2 separate regions of the Homo sapiens genome follow, and region 1 is linked to region 2. A link means that fine-mapping ties the variant in region 2 to the plasma level of a protein whose gene starts in the linked region. Region 2 holds a variant in brackets. A gene starts in the other region. All regions are shown on their forward strands. Region 1 holds the start of REG1B (regenerating family member 1 beta). Region 2 overlaps DMBT1 (deleted in malignant brain tumors 1).

What was found. A credible set is the group of variants that fine-mapping cannot tell apart. PIP is the posterior inclusion probability: the model's chance that the variant is causal. The UK Biobank Pharma Proteomics Project read protein levels with antibody pairs (Olink). The fine-mapping took linkage between variants from a reference panel, not from the people measured, so its PIPs are less certain.
Region 1: it holds the start of REG1B, and the variant in region 2 is the best candidate, but not a certain one, in a credible set for the plasma level of the REG1B protein (UK Biobank, PIP 0.64).

What each region holds. Positions count from the first base shown.
Region 1 is chr2:79,081,466-79,097,331 of GRCh38, forward strand. It overlaps REG1B (regenerating family member 1 beta), which reads right to left and starts at 6,528. Exons shown (of 6, transcript NM_006507.4): 1 at 6,494-6,528; 2 at 6,084-6,193; 3 at 5,347-5,465; 4 at 4,902-5,039; 5 at 4,027-4,138; 6 at 3,558-3,818. The coding sequence starts at 6,147. The coding sequence ends at 3,751.
Region 2 is chr10:122,623,241-122,639,106 of GRCh38, forward strand. It overlaps DMBT1 (deleted in malignant brain tumors 1), which reads left to right. Exons shown (of 56, transcript NM_001377530.1): 45 at 2,037-2,063; 46 at 2,693-2,725; 47 at 6,600-6,753; 48 at 7,048-7,250; 49 at 7,721-8,041; 50 at 8,615-8,635; 51 at 9,621-9,650; 52 at 9,951-10,101; 53 at 12,751-12,959; 54 at 13,888-14,072. Among named protein-coding and RNA genes, the nearest start is that of SPADH, 42 kb to the right of the region's middle. The variant T/C (reference allele first, on the strand shown) is at 7,965.

The sequences.
Region 1 (15,866 bases), not on the chromosome of region 2:
TCTTGGCGCATTGATCCCTTTACCATTATGTAATGCTCTTCTTTGTCTTTTTTTATCTTTGTTGGTTTAGAGTCTGTTTTATCAGAGATGAGAATTGCAACCCCTGCTTTTTTTTTTTTATTTTGGGCTTTCCATTTGCTTGGTAAGTATTCCTCCATCCCTTCATTTTGAGCCTGTGTGTGTCTTTGCACATGAGATGGGTCTCCTGAATACAGCACACAGATGGGTCTTGACTCTATCCAGTTTGCCAGTCTGTGTCTTTTAATTGGGGCATTTAGCCCATTTTCATTTAAAGCTAACATTGTTATGTGTGAATTTGATCCAGTCATTATGATGCTAGCTGGTTATTTTGCCCATTAGTTGATGTGGTTTCTTCATAGTGTCGATTGTCTTTACATTTTGGTATGTTTTCGCAGTGGCTGGTACCAGTTTTCCTTTTCATATTTAGTGCTTCCTTCAGGAGCTCTTGTAAGGCAGGCCTGGTGGTGACAAAATCCCTCAGCATTTGCTTGTCTGTAAAGGACTTTATTTCTCCTTTGCTTATGAAGCTTAGTTTGACTGGATATGAAATTCTGGGTTGAAAATTCTTTTCTTTAAGAAAGTTGCATACTGGCCCCCACTGTCTTCTGGCTCACAGGATTTCTGCAGAGAGATCCTCTGTTAGTCTGATTGGTGTCCCTTTGTGGGTAACCTGGCCTTTCTTTCTGGCTGCCCTTAACATTTTTTCCTTCATTTCAACCTTGATGAATCCAACAATTATGTGTCTTGGGGCTGCTTTTCTCAAGGAGTATCTTTGCCGTCTTCTCTGTATTTCCTGAATTTGAATGTTGGCCTCTCTTACTAGGCTGGGGCAGTTCTCCTGGATAATATCCTGAAGTATGTTTTCCAATTTGGATCCATTCTCCCTGTCACTTTCAGGTACACCAATCAAACGTAGGTTTGGTCTTTTCACATAGTCCCATATTTCTTGGGGGCTTTGTTCTTTCCTTTTCATTCTTTGTTCTCTAATCTTGTCTTCACTCTTGACTTCATTAAGTTGATCTTCAATCTCTGATATCCTTTCTTCTGCTTGATTGATTCAGCTATTGATACTTGCGTACGCTTCATGAAGTTCTCGTGCTGTGTTTTTCAGCTCCATCAGATCATTTATGTTCTTCTCTAACTAGTTATTCTAGTTACCAGTTCCTGTAACCTTTTATCAAGATTCTTAGCTTTCTTGCATTGGGTTAGAACATGCTCTTTCAGCTCAGAGGGGTTTGTTATTACCCACCTTCTGAAGCCTACTTCTGTCAATTCATCAAACTCATTGTCTATCCAGTTTTGTTTCCTTGCTGATGAGGAGTTGTGATCCTTTGGAGGAGAAGAGGCTTTCTGGTTTTTGGAATTTTCATCCTTTTTGCGCTTGTTTTTTTCTCATCTTCATGGATTTATCTATCTTTGGTCTTTAATGTTGGTGACCTTCGGATGGTGATTTTCCTGGGTGTCCTTTTAGTTGATATTGATGCTATTGCTTTCTGTTTGTTAGTTTTCCTTCTAAGAGTCAGGCCCCTCTTCTGCAGGTCTGCTGGAGTTTGTTGGAGGTCCACTCCGGACCCTGTTTGCCTGTGTCTCACCAGCGGAGGCTGCAGAACAGCAAATATTGCTGCCTGCTTCTTCCTCTGGAATCTTTGTCCCAGAGAGGCACTGGCCAGATGCCAGCTGGAGCTCTCCTGTATGAGGTGTCTGTCAACTCCTGCTGGGAGGTATCTCCCAGTCATCAGGCACTGGAGTAAGGGACCCACTTGAGAAGGCAATCTGTCCTTTAGCAGAGCTTGCGTGCTGTGCGAGGAGACCCGCTGCTCTCTTCAGAGCCAGCAGACAGGAAAGGTTAAGTCTGCTGAAGCTTGGCCCACAGCTGCCCCTTCCCCCAGGTGCTCTGTCCCAGGGAGATGGGAGTTTATCTATAAGCCCCTGACTGAGGCTGCTGCCTTTCTTTCAGAGATGTCCTCCCCAGAGAGGAGGAATCCGGAGGGGCAGTCTGGTTATAGCGGCTTTGTCACACTGCAGTGGGTTCCACCTGTTTCAGGTATTTTGAGACATCTTCCTGAAGAATTAACTACTTTATTATTATAAAATACTCCTTTTCTTCTCAAGTAACATTTTTGCTTTAAAGTCAAATATGTCTGATATTAGTATCATTGCAGACAAAACCAGTCCCCCAAAAGATGGAGTCTTTCCCTATTTGGTGTCACAAAGCCAATACATGAAACAGAAAGTGAGTGTCAAGCACTGCAGGATTTATTTGATGGCCATGGAATTGAGAAGCAGGAACATGACTCACAAATTGGCTTCTCTGCTAGTGAGGGGTAAAGTGGTTAAAATATAGGGTTTCTCCAATGAAAGGACTGGGCATTAAAAACAAAGGGAGGAATATTCATGTCTTTTCTGGAAATAGGTTGTGAACTTCCTAGGAACCAGAGTGTGCTTCCTTTTTGTACCTTTATTGCTTCTTCTGGCCATTGTCATGGTGATTGTCAGCTGTCATTGTGCTGGTAGGAGTGTCATTTAGCATGGAAATGAGATTATAATGAACCAGATGTCTTTCTGAGGTCCTTTGATGGTGATCTTGATTCTAACCAGTATCAGCTGGACTAGTTATAAAGGAAACTTTTTACCACAGGCATTCTGTTTCTTAAAGATAAGCAGAGTTCAGACAGGGTAGAAATTCAGCAATCTCATATAGGCATTACACTGGGTAACAGTACAGAAACCAGTGTTCTTATGGTTTCTGTTTGCAAGATATGTCTATTTCCTTCCTTTTATTTTCAAGCTATTTGTGTCTTAATTTAACTCATGTCTCTCATACATAGCATACAGTTGAATCTTGTTTTCATTGTTGTTACTTTAATCCAGGATGACAATTTGTTTCCTTTGTTATCAAATCACATTTAACTCTATTATTGATATGATTGATGTTATGGGCTGAACTGTGTCCCTGCACAATTAATTTGTGAAAGTCCTAAGAGTAATATTTCAGAATTTAACTTTATTGAGAGTTAGGATATTTAAAGAGATGATTAAGTATGCCTGTATATTTAATTTACATAATTGATCATTCACTTATTCATTCATCCAAGGAGTAGCATTTAACAAACTTTGCAGGCTGGCCTCCAAAAATGTACCACTAATGCACTCAGGACCGCAGACCTGACAATTCTCCTTAAGTTATCATTTCAGTCATGACTTCAAATTGCATAACCAAGAACAGATGTGTTCTCCTCAGACCCCAACTATGCGAATTCTTCTGGAATATTAAATACTCCAGTCAGACTGGATCAACAATTTAATTATTTGTGTAATTCACACTAGGTTCATGCTAACATGTGTTGTGGATGAAATCTTAATCTTTTTATCTTGTCATAAACAAGGCCACCACATGTTCATAAGCCTGACATACATAAAATGTGAGTGGGGTTTTAACAAGTGGATGGGCCATGGCAAGCTCTGGAGTGTGACAATCATTCCCACCCCAACCACCCAAGCATGGGCTGTAGAAAGAGCAAATGCAGAAGACAGAACACTGGATAAAAATAAGTTTGTTTTTATTTTTCAGGGCTCTAGAGACTGAGACAGGTGAAGGTACTGAAGATCAGCGATGCAAACTCATTAGGGAGGAGATGGTCTGAACTGAGTTGGAGACATAGTCTAGTTTAATTTTTGACTTCATAGTAATTGCAGGACCAGTTCTAGACATCCATTTTTCAGCTTCCTCTAGTTTTTGAACTTGCAAACAAAGGAGAACTTCTTCTCACAAGATTCATCCTTCCATTTCTTGAATCCTATGGTACAATGAGAAGTGTCAGACATAGAGGATCAGAAGGAGTGTAGCCCCTCCTCAACCTAGGACTCAGAACAAAAAACTAGAGGAAATACTTCTTTATTTTCCAGATAAGGAGCTTACCTTTCCTCTATCCCAGTCCCCATGTTCATCCCCAGAGATAAGTGGGAAGGAAATGGCAACAGGTGGATAGATTGTCTGCCTCTCACCTGAGCATGAAGTCAGGCTTGCACAGTAGCCAGCATTAGCACTGCTCGGGGATCCAGTGTCCCAGGACTTGTAGGAGACCAGGGACCCACTACTCCAGTGCCAGCGGCGGTTCTAGATGGAGAAGGGCCAGAACAGGGGCCATGGTCACTCAAAAATCAATAGAATAACCAGGCCTGTGTGCACACTCAGAAACAGGCCAAGTTATAGCAGAAAGAATAAACATTGTTGTCACCATGAATATCATATCATTTCCTCTGCTTTTGCTCTAAGCTTCTCCTTCTCTAGAATGTCCGAATTCCTCCTCCTCTTCCAGCAAATAATAAGTGTTCAGAATTTGATACAGAGACCCATAAAAGCCCATTAAAGAGAGTGGTTTCTGATTTTTTTCCTGAATCTCAGAACTCTCATATCCAGCATAACATTGGCTGTAGAGTAGTCGTTGATATATTATTTAGTTTATAGTGTTAAACTAAATAATATACTGTACAGTTTTATACACTTGTATAAAATGTATAACAAATGCCAGCAGTAGATTCTCCTCCACTACTCATTTTCTATATAGTCTACAGAGGGACCTCTTCCAAGACAGACAATAGCAAAATAGGGAAAAAGTTGTACATAAAGATGCATTTCTAGAAGTAGACACAATGAGTGGGTGCATGAATTCCCAGAGCCCAGAAAATTCAGCCTTCAGCTCATGTCTCTAACTACCTACACTGAACTTCACAACTCATACATTATAGGATCTATAAAGAGGTTGCTTTTATTTAAACAAACAAAAAGATAAAAGTTGGTGATTGCGGTGCCAGACCTTAAACGTCCCTCTTACCTCTCAAAAATGTTTATAAGGAGATAGAGGTGGCTGCAGACTGACCTTTTTTGGGTCATGGAGGCCAATCCAGACATTGCTGTCATCAGTGCTACTCTCCTTAATCAGTGAGGCCACGAAGGCACCCTCCGCCTGGGTGAGCACAGACACCAGGTTGCCTGAATTCATGTTCTGGCAATAGAGCTGTTGGAGAAGAAAATGGAGCACTCAGTGGAGAAGGAAGGTGTGAGGGATATACTGAGACCTTCCAGAGGATGTAACAGAAAAAGGACAGCACAGAAATGTCCCTGATGATGCTGTCACTGACCACCAGCATCTCTGTGCTGGGAATGTGTCAAATGATGGGATAAAGTAGATTGGGAAGTTTGGGACCAGTGGTGGAATAGGGAAGGGATCAATCTTATCTCATTGCAGCCACAGAACACACTGCAAATTAGCAGCTGCCTCTACCTTCATAAGCCTCCCTTCCCCTGCTGCTCTCCTCACTCACATCTGCATCAACCCAGGTCTCAGGGTCTTCATTAAAGTAGTAGCAGTAGGAGCGATAGGCATTGGTGCCTTCTGGGCAGCTGATTCGGGGATTAGGCAGCTCTGTCTGGGACTCCTGGCCTGGGGAAAAAAAAAAGGAGATAATTAAGAAAGAATCGCAGGGCAAGGAAAAGGCTGGAAGGTGAATTAGGGGCTTCTTGGTGTCCTTTATAAGAACATATGGATACAGTGAATACTGGGGCGATTGCTCACTTCTGCCCTCCTGCATCCTATCTCTTTTCTCTCTAGTTTCCTCTGCTCAAGACAAGAGCTCACAATGAATAGGCTAAATAAATGAGTCCTCGTTTTCCTTTAATTCTGAGGCTGAGGCTTCTGCCTTTAAAGACCCAGGCTTCCTCCTTTCTCAAGTTTCTCTCGGTTTCCCTGCACACGTTTGCCTTAGCTCTCCATCCTAGCAATGACTACATAAAAACATCCCCCAAACTGCCATCGCATATAGATTCAATCAGATAAACTCAACCACAATGGTCACCTATAAGTGGTCCTATTAAATTCTGTCTCAAACCCATGAATGAGGTGAGGGTGTTTTTGAATGGGATAAAATCAGCCATAATGATCACTGAACAACATAAAAAAACCCTGATGTTGACTCTGCTTTTTTTCAAGTGAACCTTATACATGAGGATGGAGGGAAGAATTCAGAGTTGGGGTTGTGGGAAGTGTGGGGGAAAATCTCACCTTGGCTCAGAGACAGGAACATCAGGGAGGAGATCAGCATGAAGAACGAGTTGGTCTGAGCCATGCTTAGCGGCAGTGAATCTCTTGCTTAAGGAGCAAATCAGCAATCTCTGTAGGAGAACACAGGGAAGAGGGTTTGAAGAAGAGAGCAGAGCACCTGTTATCTTTCTAACATCCTCTCCTCTCTGAATTCCTGTGAGCCGAAAGGTCCACTGAGATAGCTACACTCCCAGATATTTCTCTTTTGGTTTGGGGATAACAGAGGCCAAATTACCCGAAATCAGCTTTGGTCTTGCTTAAGTTTCATTACTACTGGGATCTTTTATTCAGAAAATCACCCTGTATCTACCTCAAAATGAAAAGAGAAAATCCCACGTTAGACATGCTCTTCTCCTGTAATGCCCCTTTACCTGTTGGTAAGTGCCTTGTCCACTTGAGGTGGCTTGTCAGGTCAGACAGAGTAGGAGCTTTATATCAGGGTCTGAGAGAGAACTACATGATATAAACAATGGGTGGAGCAAGGAGTAAGGATCAGAAGGCCTACAGAGGGCACTGACAGTAAGAGATTCTGGCATCAGGAATAGCTTATTCCTGGCACACATTAGGAGTGGTCACAAATGACATCAACTTACCACAAACAGGTTGGCAAACTGTCCAAGTTGATGTTGAGCTTTGCTCTTCCTCTGCAGCATCCAGGTGTCCAGTTCCCATGGCCTTTAGCAGTCCTAGAAAGAGCAGAAGAGTAGATTTCTTTGTGCTAGGTAAATGTGGGATGATCCTTTCTTTGGTTTAGGCATGGGTAGGGGTAGGGGAAGAGTCAACTGAGTCCAAATGATTAAGCCCAATTAGCTGGTGGCTTTAAGTCATTTCTCCATTCCCTTTCAGGTTCAGGAACCTCTCAAGACCTACTTCAGAAGGCAAGGTGTATTAGTCCTTTTCATACTGCTATAAAGATAATACCAGAGACTGGGTAACTTAAAAAGGAAAGAGGTTTAATTGACTCATAGTTTAATTGACTCACAGACTTTCCTGAGGATGGGGAGGCCTCAGGAAACTTACAATCATGGAGACGAAGGGGAAGCAAAGCATGTCTTACATGGTGGCAGGTGAGCAAGAGAGAGTGGAGAGGGAAGAGCCCTTTATAAAACCATCAGATCTTGTGAGAATGCACTCACTATCAAGAGAACAGCATGGGGGAAACTACTCCCGTGATCCAATCACCTCCCACTAGGTTCCTCAATCCACACATGGGGATTATGAGGATTACAATTTGAGATGAGATTTGGGTGGGGACACAGAGCCACACCACATCACAAGGTTTAGTAGTTACGTAAATTTAAGCCAGCGTTTCCAGCAAGGTTTCAGCATAAGTAGCTAGCATGATACAGATGTTCTCAAAGTCCAAGCAGGTGGGAACTGCAGGGAGCTGATGCCTAAGTAAGCTCAAAGTAATGGAATATGAAGTTGTTGGTTTGAAGTCAATTGTCTGTTGTTGTGAAGTTACAGATAGTGATGTGAAATTAAAAGCTTACTGAAATTCCCATTAAATACCCATTCAGAATCAGGGAACAAGAGCAAATCTGGAATTTAAAATTCAGTTGAAAAACTAACCAAAATGTTCACAGAAATAAGGATGGCTATATCAATTGGGATAAATGACAAAATAATATATTTTGAAATACTAACAGGAGTTAAATTAAATAAACTAAATATATTTATATAAACATGAGCTCATTTCAAAAGCATATATAAACAAAATGAATTTTAAAAGTTGCAAAAATTTACAAACTAATAATATTTATATGTGCTTTAAAAAAGCTAATTATTTATATTTTTTTATCTATTCACATGTAGTTTAAAGTAAAATAAATCCGTAATAAAACACTATACAAAAAATTTTCATACTCATTAGAAATGCAAAATGTTTGTTTCTCAGTTCTGCAAGGAAAAGTCAGCATTCAGACAAAAAGTTCTCTCAGCGAGGCAATTTTTAATTTCTGCAGAAAGGATGCCCCTCACAGATGGAACAATGGCAAGGGCATACACAGAATGAAGAGACACCAGAATATTTATTCCTTACGCATGAGGTCCCTATTGCTGTGTCCTGTCTCCATTGGCTGGAGCCAGACCTCACAATCTAAATTAAAACCTGATTGGCTAATAATTTAAAACTTTTTAAAATAGGTACAAAAATAATAATATTTCCAAATAAGGAAGGGGCACAGGCTGTGAACTAGGACATACCTATGAGCACGTCCAACACAAATATCTTGGTTAAGGTACAAGGACATGGAATGTACTACGTGCCTGTGACTGTTCAACAGCTATATAAGATAGGGCTTAACAAAGAGTTATTAGCGTAAAGCGAGGGGGCTTGAAGGAAGTTCGTCTTTAAAATAAACTATTATTTCTAACACTTATGATTTATTCTTTAACAAGAAGGGAAACTTTGAACAGGGATCTTTTTACCGTTTACATTACTGTTTTCCTGGAGAATATATAATTTTGTCCCTTTATAATAATCATTTTAAACATAGATGACAGAGGTTAATACTGTTTAGTCTAACAGGTTCAAAAGTGTTTGTCAAACTACTCTAATTTATTTCAGCATTTTCTAAAAATAATTTTCTTTAAAGCTTACAACCAGAGAAAGATTTGAGTTTTTTTTTCTGTAAGAATTTCAATCATATTATTCAGAGTTAGAAAGGGATGAAGAAAAGAGAAATCTAGTATGCTTGTTACCATAAGTTTATCTTGCCAAAATCAAACGAGCAATTATTAGTAGTAGTAGTAGTATTATCATTATTTTTGAGACAGGGTCTCTCTTTGTCACCTAGGCTAGAGTGCAATGGCTCAAACAAGGCTCACATCAGTCTTGAGCCCCTGGGCTCAACTGTTCTCCCGCCTCAGCCTCCTGAGTAGCTGGGAGTATAGGCGCACACCTCCACGCCAGGCTAATTTTTGTATTTTCAGTAGAGACAGTGTTTTACTATGTTGCCCAAGCTGGTCTCAAACTCCTGGGCTCAAGCCATCTGCCTGCCTCAGCCTCCCAAAGTGCTGGTATTATGGGCAGGAGCCACTCTGTTGGGCCAATTTTTAAAAATTAATACAAAAAAATTATTTGTGGTAATTTTTTAAATGAGAGTTTTTCTTTACATCAAGAAGACTTCAACTAGACAATGACTTTTCAGGTACAAAAGATCTAATACTTTCAAATATATAATAAAACACATTGTGGCTAGCACGATATGAAAGCATTTTAAAACAAATAACAGTTGACGCAACTCTCATAAAATGTTTATTGCCCCAATAGCTGTATGCCCGTTTAGATAACTAACCGTTATTGCTCACATAGGTTACTGACCAAATTCCACAGGCCAGGTAGTAAAATTGAGGACATTTACTGGCAGCCACTTTGGTTCCAAAATGATGCCTTTGTCAAGGAAGCCATATTTCCCAATCCTTTAAGATTTATCTCCTTGTCCTCAGGATTCTGAAGGTCCTGTCCCCTGAACTAGTTTTACAAAGTTCTAAGAAGCTGATTTTAGGCCTTTCCTATCTATTTCTTCTGTTAGTCTTCACATAGGTGGAAAGGGGTAAACTGGATAACTAGTGTTAGTATATCCCCAAATGGGGGCAATTTCTTGATACGCCTCAATAAAGCTTAGAGAGTTTCAAGACTATGGCTTATTTTTAGCGCTATTGGCCATCTTCTATCTGCTGTTCCCTGTTTTCCACCTTTTAACAGATTTTAGACTTATTATGGAGACAGAATCTCTCTTTTGTTTAAAACTTTTGGCAGGCATGTGAATAACAGCCTGTCTGCAAACTTCAGACTGGAAAGGAAAGGAGCTGAAGGAGTACCATATGCCCCAAGAATTTTCCATGGTCCGCTGTATTGTGCAGATGTAAAGAAACTTCCTTATAAATTAGCCTCTTCTGCTTCACAGGAAAGCTTCAGTTTATTTAACACAAATTTTCATCATGTGCTCTCTATGCCAGGCACTATTCTAAATGCTTAACAAATAGGCACCCACTTAATCCACATGACAACTTTGTAATATGGGTACTAGGAGGAACCATATATCACATATGAAGAAACTGAAGGTAAGAGCAGAGCTAAGCAACTTCCCCAAGATCAAACAGTTACTCTACATTGAAGCTAGATTCAAAGGCAAGAAGTTTTGCTTCGCATTCATTTTCTTAGCTCAATGAAACCTGCTAGTTTCCTTCTCTTTATTTCTTTCCACATTCAACCAGTCTAGCTCTCTGAGGCCTAATTTCAGTATAGAACCACCCATTGATCATGGCCATGGCCAGAGGCCCCACAAGAAGAACTTGAAAAAAAAATACATTTAAGATACTAAGCACCCAGTCCTTACCCTGCAAGTTAATTTGTCCTTTACACACGCTAGCATCACAATCCTCTGTGTGTGTGTGTACGTGTTTTTAAGGAAATGGGAATTGTTCTTTAGAGTCCTCGTTGTAAGGTTTTTGTATCGGTTCAAACCCCGAGAGCGTGCCAACAGACAACAGGAGATGGTGTGTAGCAACATGCTGTTTTAATGAGCACCTGGGTGCAGGCGGGCTGAGGCCTAAAATGGCTTCAGCCCCAAGTGAGGAAGGGGCAAAGGTTTTATAGTCTCCTGTAAACAAGAAGTGTCCTAGTCTGACATAACTGCTACGTTGTACCCAGATGGCCTTTTTCTGGATCTTCAGGGGTACGTGTCTTCCAGCTGGCTCTCTTCCTGCTTCTGCTATCTTGCTGGTGCACGCTGCTGGTGCAAATAGCCTTGCACCCTTGGGACTGGGCCTGAGAAGGGAGGAGTTATTCATTTCCTTAAGCTTTCAGGCCCTGGAGAGAATCTTACATTCCTGTCTATTTGGTTATAGAAAAGGGAAAAGGGATAACTACTTCAGGCGTGACATAGGGGTGGTATGGGCACCTTGGAAAAAGAAAAATTTAATTTTTGGTGTATTCTTAAGAGACGGGTTAGTATCTATAGTGTCATTGTAGCAGGAGCATCATCTGGATTGTCTGGCAGTTAACTGTAGTTTCAACAAGAGTTTTAATGGCTTTTATTATCAGTGGGATAACACAGGAAGAAACAGGAGGAGTCCAATGATGAAGATTACTGTCCTTACCAGCATTTTAAATCATCCTAAAGAACCACCCTCCTAGAAGGTTTGTTGGGTCCCATCCCTTCCAGCTTTGGACTGGTACATGAGCTACTTTTCTTATGTTTGAAGAGGTTTCTAGAACCGCTTTTCCATTATTGTCTATGTTAAGACAGCAATTAGAGATATTAAACTTACCACAGACTCCACCCTCTTCTGCTAATAAGTAGTCTAGTGCTAGCTAGCCTGTTTTGATAAATTGCCACGTGCATTTGGTTTTGTTGTTGCATGAGCATTTCCAGGGCTGAAGTGGTTTGGTTAGTGATTATCTCTAGAACAGCCTGTAGTCTAATTATTCTATTTAGCATATATATAGGAGTGCGATAACCTCAGGAACCATCCTCAGCCTAAGTGGCAGGACAGTTATACTCCATGACCTGTTGTGGAGGCCATTCATCCCCTTGCCATCTTTGGCTTCCTCCTATCTTCAAGGATCATTTTTCTTTGTTTAGGTTATTGTATACAGTGACTCCGAGGGTGTTGCCCACTGTTAATGTTTTGGAGGAAGGAGTATTCTTGGGGGTGAGCTTGACGCTGGTACGATGGACCCAGTGGGGGAGTCTTTGGACTCTCACTACAGTTGGCGTGCTGAGTATCACAGTGTAGGGGCCTGTCCACTTTGGTTGCAGCTTTTGGGTGGGGGTCAGGTTGGCAGATAAACATGTCTGTGCTTGCAATGCAGTTATGTTGAGAGGACGAGGAGGTGTCTACAGGAGAGGCATGGCCTCATTTGCTGCTTCACGAATGAAACACCGTGTCTGGATTAAGGAGGGGAGGTAATTCCTGATGGCTCAAAGTCTGGTAAGGGTAGAGGCCCTAAGACAAAAGTTTGGCCACACATGATTTCAAAGAGACTATAAAAAGAGGGTGCTTTTGGTGTCGTGCAGAGTCTCATGAGGGCAAAAGGGAGATTTTTTTTGTTCACGACTGGTAGGTTTCTAGAGCCAGCTTGGTGAGTTGGGCTTTAAGGACAGAGTTAATTTTTTCAACTTTGCCTGAAGATTGAGGCCTGTAGGGTGTGTGGAGGGCCCATTTTATTTCTAAGGATGTAGAGATGCCTTGGGTAATTTGGCTGATGAAGGCGGGCCCGTTATCAGACTGGATGGATGTTGGGAGTCCGAAACAGGGAATTGCATGCATGATGAGAGTTAGTGTGAGGATATTTGCACCTTCTGAAGTTGTTGGGAATGCTTCTATCTACCCGGAGAAAGTACAGACAAAGACTAGAAGACAGAGGAGCCGTTTATCCGGCGGGATGTGAATGAAGTCTACTTGCCAATCTTGCCTAGGTATCTGGCCCCAGTCTTGGTGAGTAGGAAAAGGCGGTGGCCAGAGGGAGCCCTGAGGTGACACTAAGTGGCAGATAGAACAGGTTTGGGTAATTTCTCAAACACGGCTGGAAAGGTGAGGACAAGTGAGAATGGGACAGAGAAGTTGCAAGAGAGGTTTGTAACCAACATGGAAAGAGTTGTGGAGGATTTGGAGGTGAGGAAGACTTTGAGAGTGAGGAAGAACGAAGCGCCCTTCCTTGACATATGATGCTCCTTGCTTTTGAAGGTTTTGGGCTCAGAAGTCCTCCTTTTCTTCTGAGGAGTAAAGAGGAGAGAACAAGGACAGGGACAGAAACCGGCCTTGCACAGGTTGTAGGGCTACTTGTTTGGCTACCTGATCTGCTAAAGCATTTCCCACCGATATAGGATTGTCTGGGGTTTGGTGGCCCCTGCAATGAATGATGGCAACTTTCTGTGCGAGCCGGGCAGCTTGAAGGAGCTTGCTGATGGGGGAGTCATTTATGACAGCGATATTTTTGGCAGTTAGGAAACCCCGTTCTTTCCAGATGGACAAGTGTGAGTATACTATGTGGAAAGCATAATGAGAATTTGAATATATGTTGATCTGTTGTCTGGTTGCTAGAGTGAGAGCTCGAGTGAGGGCGATGAGTTCAGCTTTTTGGGAGGTGATGCCTAGGAGGAGTGGATTGGCTTCAATAGTGTGTGTGGGGGTGACACTATAGCATAGCCAGCATGCCGGCGTCCTTGATGTAGGAAGGAGCTGCCATCTACAAACCAAGTAAAGGAGGCATCTGGAAGATATTGGTATGTTAGATTTGGAAAAGGTATAAGAAAGGTTTGAATAGTGTTCAAACAGAAGTGTGTAGGGTCTTGGGTGGTTGTAGCTTCAGGTAAGAGCGTGGCCGGGTTTAGACGGGAGCTGGTTAGCATGGTGATTTGGGGGCTTTCTATGAATAGAGCATACAGTTGGAGGAGCTGTGGGGCAGAGATGAGACTTAGTACACTGTGGTGAGCTAGCATGTCTTTGATGTTATGGGTTGAATAAACTGTTAGGTTGGCATGGAGAGATAGTTTTAGGTTTTTAAGGGTGAGGGCAGCAGCTGCCATCAATGCTCGGAGGCAGGCAGGCCATCTGAGAACTGTGGCTTCAAGCTGTTTAGAGAGGTAGGCAACAACCTGGAGGGTGGGTCCCTTAGACTGGGTTAGAACACCCAGTGTAACTTCACACTGTTTGTCGGTATAGAGGGAGAAAGGTTTGGTGAGGTCTGGGAGAGTGAGGACGGGGGCTGAGATGAGAGCCTTCTGGAGTAGATGGAAAGGTTGAGTAATAGGCTGTGCAGGTTTTAAAGGCTCATGGAGAGGGCCTTTAGCAGCTTGGTATAACAGTTTGGCAAGTACAGCCAAGGAGGGAACCCAGAGTCTAAAATATCCTGCTTGTCCCTAGAAAAGAGAGAATTTCTTGCTTAGTTTGCAGAGGTGGGAAGGACAGGAGGAGGGAAATGCGGTCGGTTGTGAGCCCTTGGGTACACAGGGTAAGAGCTAGGCCTAGATAGATGACTGAGGGGGTGCATATTTGTGCTTTTTTAGGGGAGACTTAATGCCCCCGTTCTGCCAGGTTTAAAAGAGAGAGATAGTATGGGCGTTGCAGTCTCTTTGAGAGGTGCTACGCAGGAGCAGATCATTAACACATCGAAGGAGAGTGGACAATTTTAGGGATAAGGTACAAAGGTCGCAAGCAAGGGCCTGTCTAAGAAGGTGGGGGCTGTCTCTGAAACCTCGAGGTAGTACGCACCAGGTGAGCAGAGGTGAAATGTGGGTGTCGGGGTTTTCCCACATAAAGGCAAAGAGGTTTTGGGAATTAGCGTGCAAAGGAATTGTGAAGAAAAGCATCCTTTAGGTTTAGAACAGAAAAATGGGTGGTATTGGAGGGAATTGTGGAAAGTGTATGGATTAGGAACTACTGAACATACTGGAAGTACAGCTTGGTTAATGAGCCTGAGGTCCTGGACTAAGCGATAAGTTCCAGCTAGCTTTTTGACAGGTAGAATTGGTGTGTTAAAAGGGGAGTTTGTTGGGCGGAGTAGGTGACTGGCAAGAAGGCAAGAAATGATAGGCTTTAGGCTCATGAGAGCTGCTTGGGGGATGGGATACTCCTTCTGTGATAGGAACTGGGTGGGCTCTTTAAGAGTAATGTGGACAGGGGTGTGGTGTTCTGCAACTGAGGGTGAGCAAGTATCCTAAACAGCAGGATTAACTACGGATGGGGGATAAGGAAAGGTTGTGTGTTTTAGGGTGGGAGGTTGAAGGAGTAGAAGAAAACTAGAAGTACTGGAGGGGTCTGGGTGGATGTGTTGGGTACTATGGGGAACGTGGAAGTGGAGAGTAGTGTGGAGTTTTGAAAGGACGTTTCGGCTGGGCACGGTGGCTCACACCAGTAATCCCAGCACTTTGGGAGGCCGAGGCGGGAGGATCACGAGGTCAGGAGATCGAGACCATCCTGGCTAACATGGTGAAACCCTGTCTCTACTAAAATTACAAAAAATTAGCTGGGCATGGTGGTGGGCGCCTGTAGTCCCAGCTACTCGGGAGGCTGAGGCAGGAGAATGGCATGAACCTGGGAGGCAGAGCTTGCAGTGAGCGGAGATCGCACCACTGCACTCCAGCCTGGGTGACAGAGTGAGACTCCGTCTTAAAAAAAAAAAAAAAAAAGCAAGAAAAAGAAAGGATATGTCTGCCTGGGAGCAGAGTTGGGCATGAAGGCAAGACTAACAAAGAGTGAGTGAAGGAAAAAGTGTGCAGGGAGTAGAAAAGTGGCAGGTGGCTCAGGGTTTGGAGATTTGTCCATCAATTCCCACAACAGAGATTTGGGAGGACTGGGTGGGTCCTGAAAAATTAGGTAAAGCAGAGTAGGTTGCCCCAATATTAATTTAAAAAAACATACTGGCCTACCTGCCACCATCAGGGTTACCCTTGGCTCTGATGAAGCAATGGTAGTTGCTGGGGCATCCGTTCCAGGGCACCGTCAGTCTTCAGCGGCAAGACCAATGAGATCTGAGTAGGAGGTTTTGGCCGGCTCAGGAAGGGATGGGGGTGGTCCTTGCAGGGGCCACTCACAGTCCAACTTCCAGTGGAGTCCTCTGCAGAGGAGGCATGGTCTGGTGGGCCTACCTGGATTTGGGCATTTTCTGGACCAGTGGCCTTTATTGCTGCACTTGAAACATGTGCCAGGTGGAGGTGGATTGCTTGGAGGCTTCCGTGTGGAGCTGCGGCCCTGGGGGCCTGCAGGGCCCCTGATGGCAGAGGCAAGCATTTG
Region 2 (15,866 bases):
TACTTTTAACTGCCAACTAATATTCCATTGTATGGCTACGCCATCTTTGTCTATCCATTTATCAGCTTATGGACATATGGGTTGCTTCCATCTTTTGGCTGTTGTGAATAAGTCTGCTATGAGAATTAGTGTACGGTTTTTTGTTTGCACTTGTGTTTCCAATTTTGGGAGATATATACCTAGGAGTGGGATTGCTCGGTAATAGGGTAATTATGTTTAATTTATTGTGGAAACACTGAACAGTTGCCACAGCTGCTGCACCAAATTTGCATTCCCCCAAGCAATGCCTGAGAATTCTGATTCCTCCGTATCCTCACCAACACTTGTTATGATGTCTTTTTCATCATGGCCATCCTAGTGGGTGTAAGGTGGTATTTCATGGTGTTTTGATTTGCATTTCCTTGATGACTAATGATGTTGAGCATCTTTTCATGTGTTGGTGGGCCCTTTGTATATATTCTTGGGAGAACAGGGGCTTCATTTTATAGATACTAAGCTGAAGGCCAGAGGAACTAGACTAATGTCAGTATCTTAGCCCAGGCTCACAGGACAGGGTTCAGGTACACAGAGGGATCAGGATGCCTGGCCCAGTGTTGTGTCTAGCATGTGACATTCCTTCATGGAGGCCTAACTCTGCCATTTTTTCTCCATTCTCAGGCATAGGCACTGCTAGGTATGCACAACTAAGTGTCCTCATAGTTGCTTCTGCCCACTGTCCCTGTAGCTCATGGTATTCAGTAGGTCCAGGTTTTGTTTCAGATTGAAGGCAAGCTGTGGGTTTGAAAGTGACTCAGGAATAAGCCTCGGGCCTGATGGGGTGGTCCCTGTGAGCAGAGTGAGTCAGCCAGAGGTGGAGAGGTGGACTCTCCCAAGAACCAGGTCCTAGGGCTGCACCTTGCCAGGCAGCTGGGAGCTGGTCTCGGTTGCATCCTGCTGCAGGGGCACTTGAGCCCAGTGGTCCCTGCAGATCCATGCTGATGGCTCCTGCACTTTAACCTCTGAATCTGAAGGCCTGGCTCAGCACTTGAATTGCTGGTCACTGGGGTAACTCCATCAGAGAACATGCACAGCTCAGTCCACACCCAAGGGTTCTAGAAAACAACCCTTAAGTTGATGAAGAACATCAACTTAAAATGATGAAGAACAGGCTTCCGTCAATGTCTATGCTGCTGGAGAACATTAACTGGAGACCCAGAAACCTTGGCCTTCTGGAAGAATTCTGAACTTCACTTGACCTCAGATCCTCTTCCTTTAGGAGATACAGGAGAGAGTTAATTTTCCTGTCTTTTCTAGAATCCAATTCTGGTTTGGCCCTGAGGCTGGTGAATGGAGGTGACCAGTGTCAGGGCCAGGTGGAGGTCCTGTACCAAGTCTCCTGGGGCACCGTGTATGATGACACCAATGACGCCAATGTGGTCTGCAGGCAGCTGGGCCGTGGCTGGGCCGTGGCATTCCCAGGAAATGCCTGGTTTGATCAGGGCTCAGGACCCATTGTCCTGGATGATGTGTGCTGCTCAGGGAATGAGTCCTAACTGTGGAGCTGCCCGCACAATGGCTGGCTCTCCCACAGCTGTCAGCACAGTGAAGATGCTGTGTCATCTGTTCAGATGGGCCTCCAAGACCTTGGGCCTCTATTTTAGTGTGTGGTTTTCTCCATGACAAGGCTTCTCTTTGCACTGGCCTCTTCCCAGCCTGAGCTTCTCTTCAAGATGGCCAGTTTCTCTGATACCTCAGCAAGGCAATAACCTCAGCAAATGTTGTTGGCGTCTTTGAATTTTATGGGTAGGCACTAGCTTCTTTCTTATGTAGGTTCCTATAGCAAACAAGGGTTCAATCTACTTTCAGGCTGTAAGAATGAATTCTTCCAACATCTTTTTTTGAGACTAACCGTTAAGGTTTATATCTACTATTCCACTCTCCTGGATGACTCTTGGGGAGCATTTCTAAGTGATGAGATGGGGACAGGCACTCAGCATTTCTCTCGCTCATCATCCTGGGCACTGGGACTGACTCATGTTTTCTTCTTTTCCTTGCAGCCACCCAAATAAATTCTACTACGACAGGTGAGTCTGCTACACCCCAGTCCAGCAATATTTCTCTTGGGAATTCCACCCTCTCTTGTTTCCAGAAGTAGGAGGAGTAGGGTAGACTCCCCCTGGGGGGGTAATTTCTCTCTGAGGACTCTGATCTTTGTTAGGGTGACGAGCTGAGTTCCCACTGCCATCACTCTCATGTCTGGTTCACCGTGGAGGGCCCCTGTGGCCTCCTGCTATTGCCTGCTGATAGTGCTAAGTGCTGGCAGAGATGCTGCTGTGGAAGGAGGCTTTGGTCCTCCCATTATTTCAGATGAAAATAACTGTCTAAATTAACCCATGGAAAATTAGGACCTTCATTTTAGAAACATAGCCAAGTAATACTTCTGCACGTATTTGTCAAATAAAGAATACTTTCACTTTGAGGGAGCCATCCGCAAAGCGTTTTTGTGCCACAGTGAAAATATCCTGGGCCAAATATGTTGGGAGGTGCTACATACTCTAGACCTTACTGGCCATGAACAGTGTAAACTGGAATGGTCAAGGCTCTGAGAAGTCCTGTACTAAGGAAAAGGATTTAACTTTGTCAGTCAAACAAATTACTATGGAATGGAAAAATTATCTACTAAAATCCTAAACAGCTTCATTTTTTTTTCTAGATTGGTGGCATCCAACAACTACAACCACTGCAAGTAGGTATCACATTTTCTACCTGAACCATAGGTCATACATTTCTTATCCCCAAGCTTGGCTATCCATGAGCGAATGCTCTGCCCCACCCCAGCCTTCCTCAATCTGCACATAGCCCTGGCCTGTCCCACTATACCCTTCACCTCTTCATTTGAATCAATGAGATAAGTATTCTTAAAATAATAGACTTAAAGGCTTTTATTTTGGGGGGTATCTCCAAAGCTTTAGGAGGAAGAAGGGAGACAAATAGTAAATGGATAATTTTACTACAAATTATGCTTTTCCATGTCATTTTTATTTCACCATATGGCTATGTTTCAATAGATTTTCATTGCTTTTAAAAAATAATAGGGATACTTTTCTGTGTTATTAAATCTTTTCTCACAATCATTTTAAGTCCCTGTATTGTATTCTATTATACAGATATGCCATGAATTATTTGACAAATCATCAGATGCTAGATATTTGTTTGTATTTCTTCATTACTGTAAATGATTTTGTGATGAAGAATATTTTTATAGATAATTTTTTTGCATACCTCACTAATTTTTCCTTTAGGATATAAATGGGTTTACTGGACCAAAGTCAATGTCATTGTAGTGCCTGGTACATAGAATGTACTTCATGCATATTAACTTTTACTGTGTTAGGTATTTTAAGATCTTGCTGTGTGTATGGTCAAACTACCATCAAGAATGGTTGTAAAATTATGGAATGATGTAAGAGACAAACTGATCTTCTTCCTCAGAGCTCACAATATTATTTTGTACACAACAAACTAGAAAATTACAGTTGTGACAACTGTTTCCAAGGAAAAGTTCAGTGTGCAAAGAGGAAGTATTAGTAGAGATCTTCCTTGATTGGGGAGTTAGGGGAAGTTCCTTATGGAAGTGACATTTAAGCTGGGAGTTAATAGAGGAGCAGGTTCATTTGCTGAAGTGTCTTCTAACCAGAAGGGATGCTTTGAAGGCCCTAGGGTGGGAAGGAGCTTGGCTCTTTGAAGGAGGGTGGGGTGCGGGCAAGGAGGGACTGCAGGAAATCTGTCGGGTGAGGCCAGATCATTCAGGGCCTTGTGGGTGGGTTAAGACTCCCATCTTTATCCTAAAGGTAGGGAGGCTGCAGAAAGATTTTAATCTTGAGAATTAGCTAATTGGAAATATATTTGCAAAAGATCATGTTTATCTTTTCTGCCAAACTGCATTTCCTGAAGGCAGGGGCCATGTCTGCCTTTTTCATAATGTATCCTTATTATCTAGCATTGTGTCTGCCTTTCAAGAACTGTTTATTGAAGGAATAAATGAGTGAATGAATGAATGGATAAATTAATGAATAAATACATAATTACTGTTGGCATTTTGGCATACATTCCATACACTGTATACACACACACAAACACACACACACACACAGTATGGCATGCTTTATATCCCATTGTATAACCCATCATTTTCATTTAAGTGTATATAATACTTTTTTCATGACCTTAAAATTAGCATTTTTATAACATTGAAATTATTTGTATAGAAGAAGGTTTAATGACTATATGATTTTCCACTGTATAGATATATCATCATTTAGTTAAACGGTTACTAATTGTGGGGCAAAAACATTGTTTCCAATTATATTTTATAATGTTAAGTGACTATATACAATAGCATATTTTATAACCATTTATATTTAATGATTAGAAATATGTAACTCGTATCCTTGTCTCTGAAAGTTTGACTTTATCCTTAATTATTTCCCAGTGTAGAAATAGAAAGGGAGGGCAGGCCACATGATCTTCAAGAAACACTGTCTTCCCATCAAATGGGAGAACGTATTTCTATCTCATAAGGGACTTGTATCTAGGATATATAAGTGACTCTTGTAGTCAATGATAAAAAGTCAAATAACCCAACTGAACAATGAGCAAAAGACCTGAAAGATATTTCTCTACAGAAGATTCACAGATAGCAGAGAAGGCATTGGAAAGATGCTCAATGTCATTAGCCGTCAGGGTCATGCAAATGAAACACCCAGTAGGTGGGCTGTAGTCAAAAAGCCAGATAATAGCAAGTGTTGATGAGGATGTGGAGAAATTGGAAACCTTATGCACGGCTGCAGGGAATGTAAAATGGTACAGCCACTTTGAGAAGCAGTTTGGTGGCTCCTCGAAAGGTTAGACCTGGAGTCACCATATGACCCAGCAGTTGTATTCCTAGGTATATACCCAGGAGAAATGAAAACATATGTCCATACAGAAACTTGTATGTGAATGTTCAGGACAGCTTTATTCATAGTAGCCAAATGTGAATGCAATGCAAATGTCCATCATGGTGAATCGAGAAACAAATATGATATGTCCATGCAGTGGAGTATTATTTGGCAATAAAAATGAATTTAATAGTGGCCGGGCGCGGTGGCTCATACCTGTAATCCCAGCATTTTGGGAGGCCAAGATGGGCGGATTGGCTGAGGTCAGGACTTCGAGACCAGCCTGGACAACGTGGTGAAACCCTGTCTCTACTAAAAATACAAAAATTAGCTGGGCATAGTGGTGGGCGGCTGTAATCCCAGCTACTTGGGAAGCTGGGGCAGGAGAATCGCTTGAACCCGGGAAGCGGAGGTTGCAGTAAGCTGAGATCGTGCCACTGCACTCCAGCCTGGGTGACAAGAGCGAAACTCCATCTCAAAACAAAACAAAAGAAAAAAAAGAATTTAATATTGATTTATGCTACAACATGATGAACTTTGAAAACACATTGAGAAGTCAGTCAAAAAAACTACCATATTGTACAATTTGTTTTATATGAAATGTCCACAATAGGCAAATCTATAGAGACAGAAAAGTAGATCAGTGGGTGCCAGGAATGGAGGGTGTTGAGAAGAAATGGGGAGTGATTGCTAATGAGTACAGGGTTTCTTTTTGGGGTGATGAAAATAATCTAAAATTGACTGTGGTGATTTCAGAGCTCTCAGTATGCTAAAAACCATGGACTTATCCCCTTAGAAAAAGTAAACAAAGAGTTATGAAAAAGAAAAAAAAAGACGTTTTAATTTCTATCACTGAGTGTGCACATGTTTTTAAAAAGTTTTTATTACTATAAACCAACCAACAAAATGTTTGACCACTTAATATTTATCCTTTTCTGATAAATAACAATAGCTAATATTGCTGGGTGCTTATGTGCCTGGCACTCTCTAAGAGTTTATATAGACATAGAAACCTATCTTATGTTTATGTATAAATGTTCATATATACATATCTTATTTAATACCCTCATCAGACAGATGAGGCAGATGCCATTACCACTCTCATTTTTCTGATGAGGAAACTGAGGCAGAGAGGTTAAGTAACTGGCTCCAGATCATGGAGCTGATAGAGGCAGAGCCAAGATGCAAACCCAGGCTTCTTGTTGCAGAAACCCTGCTCCTAACCCAACGTTGTGCTACTTGTGAATTGGCAGAGTCCTGTGCTCATGGAAGACGCTAGGGAACACACTGTGTTATGGAGTGCTCTCCACGGGTCAGCACTGTGTTCAGCCAGGACTATCCCACGTCCCTGTCTGTAGCTGATTGAACAATGATAGCTGTCACTTTGTTGCTTTCTTGGCATTTTTGCTAGAGGTGACACATGCTCCCTCTGAAGCTTGGGTCACCTCCTCGCAGAGGGTTGCTGTCCAGGCCTAACAGGGAAAGCAGGGACTTGAATCAAAGCTTCTAATGTTGGGCCACCTAGAACCAGGCCCAAGAGAGGGGACTTGTTTACAGGGAAAGTTAAGTCTTGTTATAAAGTGCAGAAGATGAAACTGGATGATACTTACACAGATGATTCCTTGTCACAAAATACCTGAAGACCTGGTACAATGGAGATGTCCCCTCTCTCCTCTCTAGGACCCTCTTCAAATTGTGGTGGCTTCTTATTCTATGCCAGTGGGACATTCTCCAGCCCATCCTACCCTGCATACTACCCCAACAATGCTAAGTGTGTTTGGGAAATAGAAGTGAATTCTGGTTATCGCATAAACCTGGGCTTCAGTAATCTGAAGTAAGTAATGCCTGGTCATCTGGTGAGGGGTGAGTTCCTCTGCAGCACACCCACTGGTTTAGACTGTGTCCTGGGCTGGGATGCTTTTCACTCTCATGTGCCATGGACAAGCTTTTGGTGGCTTTGATTCCTACCATAAAGCATCAGGGAACACTGATGTCCTTTGACTTAATTGAGGAAGAGCTAGAAGAAAAACCTGTATTCAATGGCATCCCTCGTAAAGTGCAAACTATTTATAAAATGGAGGGGCAATAGGAATTTCAATGTTGACTTGAATACATTTTCTCCATACAGATTGGAGGCACACCATAACTGCAGTTTTGATTATGTTGAAATCTTTGATGGATCATTGAATAGCAGTCTCCTGCTGGGGAAAATCTGTAATGATACCAGGCAAATATTTACATCTTCTTACAACCGAATGACCATTCACTTTCGAAGTGACATCAGTTTCCAAAACACTGGCTTTTTGGCTTGGTATAACTCCTTCCCAAGCGGTAAGTGCACACTAGACCATGCCTATGAGGCTTGGTGGATTTACCCAGCTGCCTCTTTGGGGGCACCATGGTTCCCCAAGGAAATCAAAGAAGGGCCTCAGCGATGCACGGCCCATTCTCTTTCTCTTGGCACTGACTGTGTGGGCAGGCCCTTGGGAAGGCAGCAAAGGGTGCAGACTGGGGGTTCCACCTGGCCTTGGGTCTGCCACCAACTCTCCAGGGGACCTGGTGACTCTCCTTCAGAGCCACCCCTCTCCGTCTGGAGGTGAGGGGATCTGAGCTTGGCGATGTCTAGAGCCCCTTTCAGCTCTGCATGGAGCGGTCCAGTACCTCCACCCCAGCTTTTCCACATTTCTATTTGGCGACTTTAGAGGTGGGAAAAGGCCTGTGGGATGCTTGGCCTTTGAGGTTTGTTGTGGGACATTTGTTGTGGGACATGGCCATGATCTCTCAGTTAATGTGTCTTTCAGATGCCACCTTGAGGTTGGTCAATTTAAATTCATCCTATGGTCTATGTGCCGGGCGTGTAGAAATTTACCATGGTGGCACCTGGGGGACAGTTTGTGATGACTCCTGGACCATTCAGGAAGCTGAGGTGGTCTGCAGACAGCTAGGGTGTGGACGTGCAGTTTCAGCCCTTGGAAATGCATATTTTGGCTCTGGCTCTGGCCCCATCACCCTGGACGATGTAGAGTGCTCAGGGACGGAATCCAC[T/C]CTCTGGCAGTGCCGGAACCGAGGCTGGTTCTCCCACAACTGTAATCATCGTGAAGATGCTGGTGTCATCTGCTCAGGTATGGCCCAATGCCATGGAAGGCCCATTTCACCTGTAACTTGCTATAAAGCAAGAGCTTAAGGCCAGTGGCTGATGGTGTCTGTGGCCCAGGCAGGAGCTGGTCATTGTGTCCTCGTGGCCTGCGCACTCCAGAAGAGCATGCAGGGGGCTGCTTTATCTTTGGCCAGTTTCTGGACCCAGGGCCATTATGCTGAACACTCATCTGACTAAAGGACCTCCAGCAATGATTTTACTTCTTTATGCTTCAGTTTCCTTGACTGTTGAGTCGGGGTGGCTATGATAGTACTTGCTACTGGTGACAATTGGGATGGTTTTAGAACAATCATGGTCAAGGAGAGAGTGATGGGTGTTATGACCTCAGCTGTAATCCTGATGACCACAAGTATGACGGGACTTAGGGAGCATCTGGGGAAGCTGGGAAGGCTTCTCAATAGCAATTGCTGGGTGGACCTGGGGACCCTCGCCGAGGGGGGTCAGGTTATGGGCCATGTAAGTGTATCTCTGTCTCATTCCGGCCCCTCCTCCAAGCCACATGTCTGTGACCTATGCTTTTTTTCTATTCCTTTTTCAGGAAACCATCTATCGACACCTGGTAAGTCCCTCCGATTTCCATTCCACTTCCCTGGTCTCCAGGTCTCTCCATTACTGCTGCCTAGACTGTGCAGGGCATGTTGCTCACTCTCCAAGGAGTTCATCTGTGGTACCATCCTCTACAGCCCCTGTCCCCTCCCCTGCCGGCCACCAGGATAGTGTGCCCCTCTCTGTGCTTCAGTGGCCTGACCCACCTAAGATTAGGATCTCCAGTCAGTCCCGAGGTGAGGCCCGCCACCTGTCAGATTTGACTGTCCTCACAGACACCAGACCCTGACCAGTGTTGGCCAAATGGGGCCCACTGCATCGCAGAGCTCCTCCCTGCCTGCCCCTGAGCTGCTCTGAGTGTTCCCAGCATGGCCCTGGCACCTCTCCAACACCCCCCACTGCCCCGCCCCCTGCTTGCTTTGTCATCCCCTCCTGGCCTCCCATAGCAGCAGCTTCAGGCCTGTGCCCTCCCATCCATTCTCCACTGTGCAGCCCCTTCAAGAGATTCCTCAGGGTCTTCTGGTGATGACCCCGCTCCTCAGCACAGCATGACTGCCAGGGCTCCCCATGATCTGCTCCCTATGCTTGGTGCCCTCTCCCCATCCTCTGCCTGCTCCATCTACACGGAGGTTCCCAAATCTATTCCACCCAGGTGCAGTTGCACCTGCTGTTCCTCTGCCTGGGACACCCCGTTTCTACCTCTTTGCCTGCCCCCTAATTACTGCCCTTTTTTCCCCACTCCATCTGGGGCAGGGGCCAGACTTCCAGGCTCCTCTCCTTCCCCAGGCTTTGGTCAATCTCATCCTTTTCCCAGTGTGCTGGGATTCGCTCTCCTCCAGACCTCCCCAAAGGCAAGTGAGCTCCCCAAGGGCAAGGCCTGTGTCCAGCTCCTCCCTGTGGACTCAGGCTTGGCACAGCATCTGCACAGCTCATGAGCAGTCGACAGCTGTGTCAGGGATGCCAGAAAACTGATCCTGATCTTTTCTTTTTGTCAACAGCTCCTTTTCTCAACATCACCCGTCCAAACAGTAAGTTCTGAGCTCCCTGACAAGTCTGTGGCAGAGTGGCCTGGAAATTCCCCTTCCCATTTCCTCAGTGACAATGGGGCTGGGGAGGAGATGGCTTCCCCCAAAGTGGTCTCCCTGCAAGAGTGCCCTGCCAGCCCTCAGTGGACGGTCCAGATCTAGGCCACCTCTTGCTCTTACTTGGTTTCTGTCTTGGGAATTATTTTATAAAATTTTAAAGTAATTTAAATTTAAAGTAGTCCGCAGGTAGACTGTGCAGTGTGCTCTGGGGGTCACCGACATTCCCACTTTTTGTCCTGACAGCAGATTATTCCTGCGGAGGCTTCCTATCCCAACCATCAGGGGACTTTTCCAGCCCATTCTATCCCGGGAACTATCCAAACAATGCCAAGTGTGTGTGGGACATTGAGGTGCAAAACAACTACCGTGTGACTGTGATCTTCAGAGATGTCCAGTAAGTGTGCGCCCAGAAGAATGCCTTGGGGCCCCACAGACCTTTCAAGAGGGAATAAATGGTGCTTAAGTGTGCGCCCAGAAGAATGCCTTGGGGCCCCACAGACCTTTCAAGAGGGAATAAATGGTGCTTAGAAAGCCAGGAGAGAAGTTTGCTGAGAGACATTTTTGACCTAGCCCAGAGGCATCCCGTGGAGAGTTGGGGAGGGGGCACGAGAGCCTTGGAGTGGACAAAAGCTCTGGTTTCAAGTCCTAGGTCTTTCACCAATTTGCTGTGTGACCACAGGAAGTCACTCAACTTTCCTGAGCCTCAGTCAAAAGAGGGGAATAAAATACCTGCTTTCCTCACCTCACTGTTTACTGGGAAGGTCACGAGAAACAGAGAGGAGAGAGAGGGAGAGAGATGTGAAAATATTTACAAAATGTTGTCCAGTGGAAAAGATGGTTGTTAAGTAGTAATGATAGACTTAGGGGCAATAATAGCACTAATAATCCTATTAACAACCACACTGGCCAGGTATGCTGCCTCAGGGTTGTAATCCCAACACTTTGGGAGGCCGAGGCAGGAGGATCACCTGAATGCAGGAGTTCAAGACCAGCCTGAGCAATATAGGGAGACCCCCCATCTCTACAAAAAAGTACAAAAATTAGCTGGGTGTGGTGGCCTGCACCTGTAGTCCCAGCTACTAAGGAGGCTGAGGTGGGAGAATCGCTAGAGCCCTGGGAGTTGAAGGTTGTGGTGAACTATGATAGCGCCAGTGCACTCCAGCTTGTGGAACAAAACGAGACCCTGTCTCAGGAAAACAAAACAAAACAAAAAGAACAATTGTATCTGTTTTGTGGAACCCTTTTTCTCCACCCATTCCTTTCTTCATGTGAGTTCCCCAGGGGTCGGGCAGAGATGGAGGAATTGCTGCTCCAGAGGGTAGGGTATCTGCTCTGCATCCAATCATAAGTAGAAATCATCGTTTTAAGCAGAGAGGACATTACTAAAAGCACTTTTCTTTCTTTCTTTCTTTCTTTCTTTCTTTCTTTCTTTCTTTCTTTCTTTCTTTCTTTCTTTTCTTTCTTTCTCTCTCTCTCTCTCTCTTCTCTCTCTCTCTCTCTCTCTCTCTCTCTCTCTCTCTCTCTCTCTCTCTCTTTCTCTCTTTTTCTTTCTTTCTTTTTTTTTCCGGACATGGAGTCTCGCTCTGTCACCCAGGCTGGAATGTAGTGGCACGGTCTCGGCTCACTGCAACCTCTGCCTCCCGGGTTCAAGCGATTCTCCTGCCTCAGCCTTTCAAGTAGCTGGGCTTACAGGCACACGCCACAATGCCTGGCTAATTTTTGTATTTTTATTAGAGACGGGGTTTCACCATATTGGTCAGGCTGGTCTTCAACTCCTGGCCTCAGGTTATCCTCCCACCTCGGCCTCCCAAAGTGCTGGGATTACAGGTGTGAGCCACCATGCCTGATGTCAAAAGTACATTAATATATGATTTATCCAAGGAGGCGGGTGGCCCAGCTAACTGTGAAGAGGCACCAGTGTTTGCTAGTGTCCTGAACAAGGGGCTACACTAATTTCTTCTCTAACAGCCACTGTTGAACAAAATAGTTTTCCCTGTTGATTTCTGTTTGCAGTGGGCTTTGGAGTCTCTGCTTTAGTGATTCATTTGGGATTTTGCAAAAGATACATCATTTTATTCTCTTTGTCATTACAATACAAAGATTGCACTTAAAGCTGATGCAGTCCTATGGGAAAAGGTTGACCATGACTGGTTCTTTAACCAGCATCTTGATAGCAATGACCATCACCATTTGTGACATTTTACAAAGCCCTTTTCTGTATGTTGTTTTATTTGAGCTTCACCATAGCCCTCTTCAGTGTGCATGGATCAGATTACTTTGCCTTTGTAAATAGGAAAAGCTTTAGAGAGATTATTTGACTTGCCCAGTATTTATTTATTCAATTATTTATTTCTCTCACTATGAATTCATGCATATTGATTTTATTCTGTGGGGGCACTAGGGACTTTTCGATGGAAGAAAAATGGTCTAAATCAGGATGCGAGCCCTTCCTTTCCTGATGTAAAGGGCTGACAGGTGAGGGGCTGTAGATTTCATATGTGTGATTGCAAAGGGCAGGACTAAGACCCAGGCATGGAGGTTGAGGGAAGATGAGACTCTCTTGATTTAAGGATACCTATGACTTTCTTTTGTTTCAATTTTTATTTTTCTTTTTATTTTTTGAGACAGGGCCTCACTCTGTCGCCCAAACTGGAGTGCAGTGGCACGATCTCGGCTCACTGCAACCTCTGCCTCCTTGGTTCAAGTGATTTTCCTGCCTCAGCCTCCTGAGTAGCCTCCCTCACCCTACAGGCTTGTGCCACCACGCCCGGCTAATTTTTGGATTTTTAGTAGAGACAGGGTTTCACCACGTTGGCCAGGCTGGTCTCGAACTTATGACCTCAGATGATCCACCTGCCTTGGTCTCCCAAAGTGCTGGGATTATAAGTGTGAGCTACTGCGCCCAGCCAAGGAGACCTATGACTTTCATCGATGAACTTTGTCAGAGTTTCTGGCACAGAGGTGTGACCCCACCCTGAGATCTGACCCCCTGCGTCAAATTCTGGGAGGAAATGAAGCCAAATGGTGTGTCCTCTCTCTGCAGGCTTGAAGGTGGCTGCAACTATGATTATATTGAAGTTTTCGATGGCCCCTACCGCAGTTCCCCTCTCATTGCTCGAGTTTGTGATGGGGCCAGAGGCTCCTTCACTTCTTCCTCCAACTTCATGTCCATTCGCTTCATCAGTGACCACAGCATCACAAGGAGAGGGTTCCGGGCTGAGTACTACTCCAGTCCCTCCAATGACAGCACCAGTAAGTCCCCTTGTGGAAATGCTCTGTTGGGACTGGGGACATCCTGAGAGCATCTGTGGCTCAACTGTCCTGTTGTTGTGAAATAAGAAATGAAGGAACCCTTTCAGGTCACCAGGGCTTGATTTTCAGCTGAAAGGGACCAGGAGCAGTGGGACTTGGGACTCTGGCTGCCCAGAAATAAAGTCAGGGCTAGAACTGGCTGATGGGTGATGATTGGTCTTACTGTGGTCAGCAGAGACTAAGTAGAGGGTCCCAGATGATGCTCTTCGTGGAGAGTGATGAGTCAGTGCCAAAGGCAGAGGTGACCTCTTGGCTTGAAACCTTGTGACCTTCTCAGAGTGTGGGACACTGTGGCCATGGCCTGAGACCTAACACATTTGGTTTCTATCTGAAGATGGACTGAGCTGGGTGGCTGGAAGTGGCTGAGATAAGGTCACTCAGACACTTCCAGCAGAGCCTGTATGGCCATGATTTGAGTTGCTGTATGGACTGATATGTAGAATGGCCAAGGGCCAGGCAAGGTGACATCCAGGGTCTCTTATGCAGTCAGGATTAAAGACTGACTTGCTTCATGGCTAAAAGACCTTGTTTCATGACATTCCCACAATTTGATCATACAGTTACTTTACTTTATAGATAAATGGTAACTTGGCCAAACATACCACTTATTTAAAAATCCTGCCTCCAATTCTCCATCAGAGAAATCCTGAGTCCACGTGCTCTCCTTGGGCTTTCATAAGGATGGGGCTGACTTGACCCTCGGGTCCTTGGGGGATTGCAGTGAGGTCTATGCCCACATCCTAAGTGCTGACCCTCCCTGTCAGCCACCCTGGTCTGTGCACTTTTTAAGTGGAAACAGCCTCTGGCCCCGTAGGACTTGTGGAGTCTGGGGCAGTGACTGAGTGCCTTATCTGTCCTTGTCTATCAGACCTGCTCTGTCTGCCAAATCACATGCAAGCCAGTGTGAGCAGGAGCTATCTCCAATCCTTGGGCTTTTCTGCCAGTGACCTTGTCATTTCCACCTGGAATGGATACTACGAGTGTCGGCCCCAGATAACGCCGAACCTGGTGATATTCACAATTCCCTACTCAGGCTGCGGCACCTTCAAGCAGGTAAGCCTGGGGCTTCCCATTCCATTTCCCAGTGCACAAGCTTTCTTAGAGCGGTATGTCCTGTGCTTCTTGAATTCTGGGGATGAAGAAATTATGATTTTGGGATAATCAGGACATAATTGGAATAAAGGAAGATAAAAAACCTTTGGTGCTATGATATGGCTGCAGCTACTTCCAAATAGGAAGAAGGAAGCTGAGCAGAAAGAGTATCTCCAGCTGTGTCCAGCAGAGAGGGCTTCTGGCAGACCGCCACTCCCATCAGCAATAACAACAGCAGCTCCTGGAGCAGCTCCAGATTTTGCAGGGCCTGAAGCTTATACAGTTAGGGTTGGGGGTGAGAGGCAGGTGTTGAGATGGGCAGGGGCCTCATTAAGTCAAAGAATGCAATATCTATGAACTTTTATAAACTTTGCAAAAACGTATGGCTGTGCAAACACATTGCTAGGCCTTGGAGGAGGCCTGCACATTGCAGTAGGCAGGGAAGAGGGGGCCCAAAAGCTTCAGCTTCATTAGCTCCATAGTCAGCTGGCCTCTGCAGCTACCATTTGTTGAGCTATCACCATCTAAGATGGCCCCCTGCATCCAATTTTGGGTGAAAGTGAAGCCAATATGGTGTGTCCCTTCTCTACAGGCTTGAAGGTGGCTGCAACTATGATTATACTGAAGTTTTCAACAGCCCCTACCACCGATTTCTGTGGTTTGCCTGGGACTTTGCAGATTTTAGCATAGAAAGTCCCACGTTCCAGGAAACCCCTCACTCCCAGGCAAATGAGGACGGTTAGTCACCCTACAAGTGGCAGATGCTGTGATTGGTCCTTGTCATACTCCCCCAGTGAAGGCCTGGCCTTAATTGTGTTGGGTTCTGGCTTGCTGTGAGTTTGGTCAGTGGAAGTCAGTCCACTGAAGGTGACCATTGTTCCTATGCCAAGTGAGCAGCCTGGAGACTCCCTGAGCGGCCCCGCTGAGGGCCCTTCACACCCATTCACACCCATTCACACTCGTTCACACCCATTCACACCCGTTTGGAGCGGCCAGACAACTCTGTCAGCCCTGTTTCTTCTAACTTGGCTGATCATGAATAGCACACGCCACATTCTTATTCCTCCACTCATTTATTTATTTTTATTTTATTTTAATTTTTTAATGACAGGTTCTCATTCTGTTGCCCAGGCTGGATGCCCAGGCAGGGGTGCATCATAGCTCACAGCAGACTTGAACTCCTGGGCTTAAGCAATCTTCCAGCCTCAGCCTCCAGAGTAGCTGGGACTATAGGCATGCACCACCACACCCAGCTAATTAACAAATTTTTTTTTGTAGAGGTGGGATCTTGCTATGTGTCCCAGGCTGATCTCGAACTCCTGAGCTCAAGTGATCCTCCTGCCTTGGCCTCCCAAATGCTGGGATTACGGGCATGAACCACTGCTCCTGGCCTCCTCTATTTCTTTAAATAACCATATTGCCTATCACACTGAGTGCCTCAGGGGCAGGGCCAATGTTTTGTTCATCTTTGCAACCCCCAGTGCCCCTGGTCCTGAGCCTAAGAGTTGATATAGTATTATTAACAGCTCATACAGATATCAGACACTGAACTAAGTGTGCTATATAACTTTTAAAATTCTCAGGACAACTTTATTCCCACTTAATTATGAGGCAACGGAGGCTTGCAGAAGGTAAGCCACTTGCCCAGAACCATATGGCCATGAGCTGCGGGTCTAAGACATAGAAGTAGGGCTGTGCCATCCATGGCTGGAGCTTCCCACAGCTCCACCAGGCTGGCCTGTGATAGTGAATTTT